Homo sapiens: one gene and its partner. The protein of the gene in region 1 purifies or fractionates together with the protein of each later gene. This does not show direct contact. Each region holds a gene or a part of one and is shown on either strand. Other genes may lie near its edges.

Evidence for each region. The genes of interacting proteins can lie anywhere in the genome.
Region 2: the proteins of PALMD (region 1) and MIPEP purify together in Homo sapiens (affinity purification with mass spectrometry, with the first as the bait; one study listed by BioGRID). This does not show direct contact.

Annotation. Positions count from the first base shown.
Region 1 is NC_000001.11:99,648,960-99,652,615, reverse strand, and holds part of PALMD (palmdelphin), read right to left. Parts: intron 1-3,656.
Region 2 is NC_000013.11:23,865,308-23,868,963, reverse strand, and holds part of MIPEP (mitochondrial intermediate peptidase), read left to right. Parts: intron 1-3,656. UniProt on the Homo sapiens protein: Cleaves proteins, imported into the mitochondrion, to their mature size.

The sequences.
Region 1 (3,656 bases):
TTCTTTTCTTTTCTGACGGAGTCTCACTCTGTTACCCAGGCTGGAGTGCAGTGACGCAATCACAGCTCACTGCAACCTCTGCCTCCCAGGTTCAAGCAATTCTCGTTCCTCAGCTTCCCAAGTAGCTGGGATTACAGGCGCAGACCACCATGCCCAGCTAATTTTTGTATTTTTAGTAGAGACAGGGTTTCACCATGTTGGCCAGGCTGGTTTTGAACTCCTGGCCTTAAGTGATCCGCCTGCCTCAACCTCCCAAAGTGCTGGGATTATAGACATGAGCTACCATGCCCAGCCAGAAATCTACGGAAGTCCTGAACAGGGGTCAGGGGTGTGATGTTGATGTTTATAAAAATTTGTCATGATGCTGTGGTCAGAAAATCTGATGAGCAGAGGAATAGATTCAAGTTCCGACATTTGACTAATTCCTTAGCTTTTCTTGGCCTAGGCTTTCTGCCATAAAATGGGAATGATAACATATGCTTTTGAAAATACTCATAGGACTACTTGGACAAATGAGATAAAATGGATGTGAAAGTTTTATTTTTCATAGCCTAAATGCTATGTAAGAATAGGCACTGTTATTATTGTTAGAAATCTCACAATTCTTTTTCTTAGGAGATGTCCATTTTATTCCAGAGTTGTTAGCGTAATTGATTAGGAATAGCTGTTGTAGCCCACTTTGCTATGTTACATCATCCTGTGTCAATCACTGATACATTTAATAGATTGAAAACTTGATGCTTAGGACAGAAGCTAGTTTTGAGTTCCATTCAGAACTCCTGAGGATAACCTAGCTCTACCTCTTAAGTGGCTTGACTGAATCCTCTCAGTCCCTGGGATTTTATGTAAAAACTTTAAGTATAGATCTCATTCAAACTGCTTTGATGATGTTTTAGGAAAATGTGCATGCCACAGGGTTCTGGGTAAGGGAACTTCTTAAGGTGGTAAATTTTCATGGAGTCTCTTCCCAAAATGACATTACTATCATTTAAATAAATTAAAATATTCTTATTTCTTTTTAAGAGAGGGTAGGTAGTTAGAGACTGCAGATTAAAAAGTGGAAGTCCTATTGCAGTTTTAGAATTGAACTGTGTTGCATTTGTTTATACTCTGGTTAGTCTTAGATGCTTATTCTCTAATTTGTTTTAATCACAGTTTTCTAAAGAAGCAGCTTTTCCTTTCAACCATCCAGTAATGTTCAGAAAGTTCATGGGGATCTTTGTCAGTAGAGGAGTTAGCAAAGTAGCATTATCATTTTGTTGCACAGTGGAAAAACCTTCCCCAGTTATCAAAAAGCAGTTTCCTTAATGAGCTATCAAAACTATTATACCTCATCACATGGTGTCCTTTATGGGTGGGCTGTTATGTTTGGCAAAGAAGTGTGGCGTACCACATTTGTTTGAAGAAACCTTTCCCTCTCTGGAAGAAACATGTAATCTTGGTACAGCACTGTGGAAAATTGTGCTGAGGTTTCATTGTTGAATATTCCAGAATGGGACTTTTTTATTTAGAAGACTGCTACATCTTCATGTACCATCTTCATGTGAATTTCTTTGGAAGCTCCTGACAAATTAGAAGTTGTTCCTCTAACTATGTCTTAATCATGAGGTATGTTGGTTAACAATGGGGCATTATGCATTCTTTGGCCACTAGTACTTTAAGAATTCCTTAGAGCTCTAAATAATACAATGATCCAAACACGTGTTAGGGTATGCCTTTGTTAAAGACACAGACTAGTTTACACTTGTTTTTACTCTCTTATTTGTTCAGATAGAACGAATAAGGAAAAATATGTATGGCCAGTCTGGAATACAGAAGCAGGGCTGACTTCTTGGGTTTGTGACCTGTGAAGTCACCCAGGTCATCATGCTCAGAAGGGCCTAGCACTTAGATCAAAGCTCTGTTGTCACCACCTTGACATTTTGAATATTTTTTGAACAAGGGCCACCACAATTCCCTTGTGTTTTGGGCCCCACAAATCACACAGCAGGTCTTGCTTTTGGGTCACTAACTGTCTTACTGACTGTTAGAAGAGCCCAGATATTGACAAAAAGGGAACAAGATGAGGTAGAGTGCCCAGAGACACTTGTAACAGGGAACATGTGCTAAAGAAATAACTAGAACCCATCCGTGCTCATGTTCTTGTTTTAATGTTGGTCTTTGTACTGTGGAGATTTCTGTTTTATGTAAAGAACTCCATGTCTCTTAAATTCCTATATTTACAAGTCAAGAAAAATTTATTTGGGTATTTGGGAGTGGAAAGCAGTAGGGAGTTGATCAGGGGAAATGTGAGAGCTTTTTTTTTTTTTTTTTTTTTTTTTTTTTTTTTTCATTATGAGCAGCTTTGGCCGGCAAAATCTGGCTCTGTTGCTCAAATTCCAGTGTCAGGACTTTATATGGCTCCTTTCCAAATGGAGGCAGTCCTAGGCAGGTGCTTGTACTTGTGATTATTTTTATTGTCTAACTTTTGACAGAACTCACCTCCTTCACATCTAGGCTCAAACGTCACCCTCTTTGTGAACCCCATCCTGACCACTCTATTTTAACTTACAATGCACTCCCATCCCCACTCCTCACATTCCAGACTCCCCTTATTTCACTTCTTTTCATTTAAATGCACAAGGCTTGGTGCATAGTAGGTGCCTAATAACCATTAATTGAATAAAGGCATGAGAGACTGTGTTGATAACACACATTCCTTACAGTTAAAGGTAAGCCTGGAGGAGAATAAAAATGTCAGCTTTCTTCTTACTCTCTTTTTCTCAGTTGAGTCTGTTCTCTGAAATTGGATTCTAGTTCTTAAACTTCCTCTGAGTTCATCCTTCAAATAGAACTGAGTCTATGATCGCAAGACAGTTTAAGATCTAATTTTCCAGTTTGAGCATATCCATATTTGTAATGGTATTTTCCAATGTCGCTGTAGGCATGGGGGTAAGAAAATGTATTAGCTGTGGAGGAGATGTTAAGAGTATACGGAATGTTACTCATCCTAAGGGAATCTTTGTGTTTCTGAGGAGAGACCCCTGGGCCTTTTCGTTGTTCTTCAGTGTGGGCCACGTTCACTTTCAGACAGTAACTCTGTAGGGATAACTCTGTCAGTGGTACGTTCAGTCCTTCATCTCACGCTTCTTCATCTCACTCTTCTCGAGAATGCTGGAGTCATTGGTATCCTCAGTTCCAGTATTGTTAAAGGTGAATTTCAAATTACTAGTCTATTTCAAAATACTATTGAATTCCAATTAGCTCACCTTTTGTAGAAAGATCAGCTATTTGTTCAAGTGTGTACTGACTTGAAAAGGGCCTCAAGAGACATTTTAAAGATCAAACATAATAGTTAATTAATTTTAAGCAGCCCTGTGTTTAAATTATAGTTGAAAACTGAACTTCTAGGCAAAGGGGTACTTTGACCATTAATTTAGTAAGGGAAGAGTTGGTGCATGGATAAAGTATTAAGGAAGAACATGAAAGTAATTGTGTAAAATAGAATCTATATTTGGTATACCCAAACTGAAGTATCTACCCTTGAACAATTGTTTCTGCATACTTTCATAATTTTGCTCTTATTCTCTTTAAATCTTTGAGAAGACATCTGACTAATCTAAAATTCAATTTACTGATCTGATATGAGAAATGAATGGCATCACGATAGTAATTTA
Region 2 (3,656 bases), on another chromosome or scaffold:
TGAAAGATCAGTATGTTTACTGAGGTCAAGGTTAAATGTAGGTTAGGTCATATAAAAAACACACAGTCAGATAAGCCTCCTTTTCAGAGAGAAGAGTACTGCTTAGGAAGGTTTGTGCTAGGTGAGGTGTTACGGAAGTGTGTCGTTGGGTTTGTCATAAACTTGCCTTGTGCTATGTTGAGTTCCTTATGATTCATAATGTCTAAGAGAAAATGTTACACAATAATAATATAAATGTACATAATACGTTTTTTCAGAAGCATTTATTAACTTACAGTTGTAATTTAGGTGGTGAGTCAGGAGTAGGGTGGCCGTGATGATGGAGCTGCGTGAGACTCAAGGTCTTGGCAGTGAAGTTGCAAGACTTAGTGAGGGTGAGAGGGAGGAGGAGGCATTGTGGTGGGCCCCCTGGGTTTCTGGTTGTACATCTGGTTAGACATTCCACTCACCGACAGAGGGGACACTGGGGGCAGATCACAACCTGAATCCTCGCTTGTCTTTATTCCTTCTGTGCTTATCCCTTCTCACCCTAGCATGTTCCTCTCTTCTCCAAAGTTCTCTAAATGCACTCAATCTTACTTCTTACTCTTTCGTAAACAACTGTTTCCCTTGACCTGTCAGGGCTCTCGGTTAAGCTACAGGCGTGTCACGCTCATTGCGGCCTGGGTTCCCTTGCTCGTGTCACTCTCCTATGGAGAGCAGCTTTTCTTCCTGGTCTGCCTGTTAAAATCTTACCCCGTTTTTTTAGTGCTCAGCTCAAAACCCACCTCTTTCATGAAGCTGGTTAAACTTTTTCACTTTCCTTGGACTCCTTTGTCCCCGAACCCTTAAAACACTTACATTTTTTTTCATATAATCGAAGCTCCTAAACAGATATAATATGTATGTTATGTATTAAATGTGTGTTTTTAGTGTATGTTTTTTCTTTTTTTGTAAGTATCAGTTTGGTGAAAAGTATGTTTTTCTGTAGTCGCTGTTGTCAACAGTTTGATTATAATAGTACCATATTTTTATTTTATATTTATATAAAATAATAATATTAGAATATCATTCAGTGCTTATCCTGTTGTTATCTCATTTCCTTCCTCTGCAGCTTTGTGAGGTAGGTATTTGTATTCGTGTCACAGATAAGGAATCTAAGGTTAGGTTATATTGCTAAAATGTGGCAGAACTGAAGCCTAAACACATATGCTACATTTATGGTTTTCCACAGGCTGCTTGAGACCTAATGCCCTATGTTTTATATCATCTACATCCCCCTTTTGTTTATTAATTCAGCAAATATTTACTGATTGCCCACTGTATGTCAGATATTATTCTCGGTCAGGGAAATAAGTCAGTGTACAAAGCAGAAGAAAATTCCTATCCTTATGCAGTTTACATTCTTGGGAGCAAGGGAAGAACAGTAAAGAACGAAATAAGTAGATAAAGTATGTGGTATGTTATTAGTTAATACAAGCCATGGAGAAAACTGAACAGGGAAGGGGATAAGGTATGTGGGCATGTAGGCTGGTGTTGGAGTTTTAGAGAGCATTGTCGGAAGGCTCACTTAGAATGTGGAATGTGAGCGTGCTCTTGACAGACACAAGCATGAGGCTGTGGCTCTTGAGGGGAGAAAGGTTTCACGCAGAGTCACTATCAAGTGCTAAGGTCTTGAGGCAGAAAAATGCCTGCCACGTTTGAGGAGGGCAGAGTGGCTGAAGCGCAGCGTGTGCAAGGAGAGTGGCGAGAGGTGGGAACAGACTGACAAGGGGCGGCATTAAGTAGAGACTTGATGCAAGTGCAGCAGGTCACTGTGGGGGTTGGGGCAGAGGAGTGAGATGATCTGACTCCAGTGCTAATGGTGAGTCAGTGCTGCTGTTCCTGAGAGAAGACTGCAGCAGGGCCAGGGTAGAAGAGGGCCTGTTTAGATGCTGTTTTGCAGTAACCATGATGAGAAGTGTTGGCATCTTGACCAGGTGGTAGCAGGGAAGGTGGTAAGATGTGATCAGATTCTGGGTACAGAGTATTTGGAAGAGGGAGCCAACATTTTCGACCTAAGCAACTAGAAAGAGAGTGAGTTACTACTGTTAACTAAGATTGGGAGGACCGGAAACTTGGTTTGTTTCAAGTTAAGTTTGAGATACCAAATGAGGTTCAAGTGGTGAAGTTGGGTAGGCAGTTAGATGGAGTGTGGAGTTCTGAGCTTCATATGTAAGTCTGAACCTCTAAAATGAGATTCTGATACCACTAAGAGAGTGAACTTAAAGAACAAGTCCAAGGACTGCGCTCTGGGGCCTTCAAGTTTAAGAGGCCAGGCATGTGAGGAACTGCTAGTTAACGCTGCCAGATGTAACGGCCACTAAGGGAGGTGGAAAGTGATTACAGGGTGTGGTCCTGGAGGCCGCGCAGAAGGTCTGTCTACAGGAGAGGGGAGAGATCAGCTGACTCATGCTGTGGCCAGGTCAGATGTGAGGAGGGCTGGGCATGACCACTGGCTGTAGCAGCGTGGAGCTCACTGGACCTGCAGCACCCAGCTCCAGATTCCGTGACTGGCAGGTCACCCTTGTGCACTAAGTGCTTGGTGTGCTGATGTATTGGCAGGGGGCTGTTGTGCACATCATCACGTAAGATGTGCTCTGGGTCCTTGAGGATTTAAAGCTTAGTTGAGGAGCTGGATATATGCATATAAAAAGATAAATAATAATAGAGGTTGGCACGTTTTCGGTGTCGATGGAGTAGTACAGACAAAACAATGCCATGGGATTTAGGAGCTCGGGGCATTTGTCAGATGCATCTGTGGCTGTGGAAGGCGCCCTGAGGGAAATGAAACTGTCATGCACAGTGATGGAGTGAGTCCTCAGCAGAGCAGAAGGAAGACAGAGAGGCTGACTGAGGCTAAGGCGGGCATTCATGTGGCTAGTGAATGAGGAGGTAACTGCGGTGAGGCACTTAGTGGGGGGTTTCAAACTGAATCTTAATATGACAATTCTCTGGGGACACTAATTGAGGCAGGCCAGATGTGGTGTCTCATGCCTGTAATCTCAGCACTTTGGGAGGCTGAGGCAGGCAGATCACTTGAGGTCAGGAGTTCAAGAACAGCCTGGCCAACATGGTGAAACCCCATCTCTACTAAAAATACAAAAATTAATTGGGCGCGGTGGCGGGTGCCTGTAATCCCAGCTACTCAGGAAGCTGAGACAGGAGAATCGATTGAACCCTGGGAGGCAGAGGTTGCAGTGAGCCGAGATGGGACTTCTGCACTCCAGCCTGGGCAACAGAGCAAGACTCCATCTCAAAAAAAAAAAAAAATTAATTGAGGCAGATTCTTCACATGTAAAATGACTGGAAGAATAAGATGGGTGAATGTTAAAACACGGTTATTAAGAAATAAAACGTATACAAGCATACATAGGGATTCATTTGAAAACAGTTTGGTATGGTACCTGGAATATAATCCTAAAATGAGATTTCATTGTTGACTAAATAATGTCTTTGTTCCCCAAAAATTCCTATTGTTGTTTCATATGGCACATGAGCCAGTGTTTTCAGAATTCGTATACACAGGACTTGTTAAGTATTGACAGTGGCAAGAAACCTCATGGTTTGGGTTTAGGTTAACCACCATTATTTATTTCCTTAGTCTTTTATTTCACTCAAAAGGAGATAACTTAAAT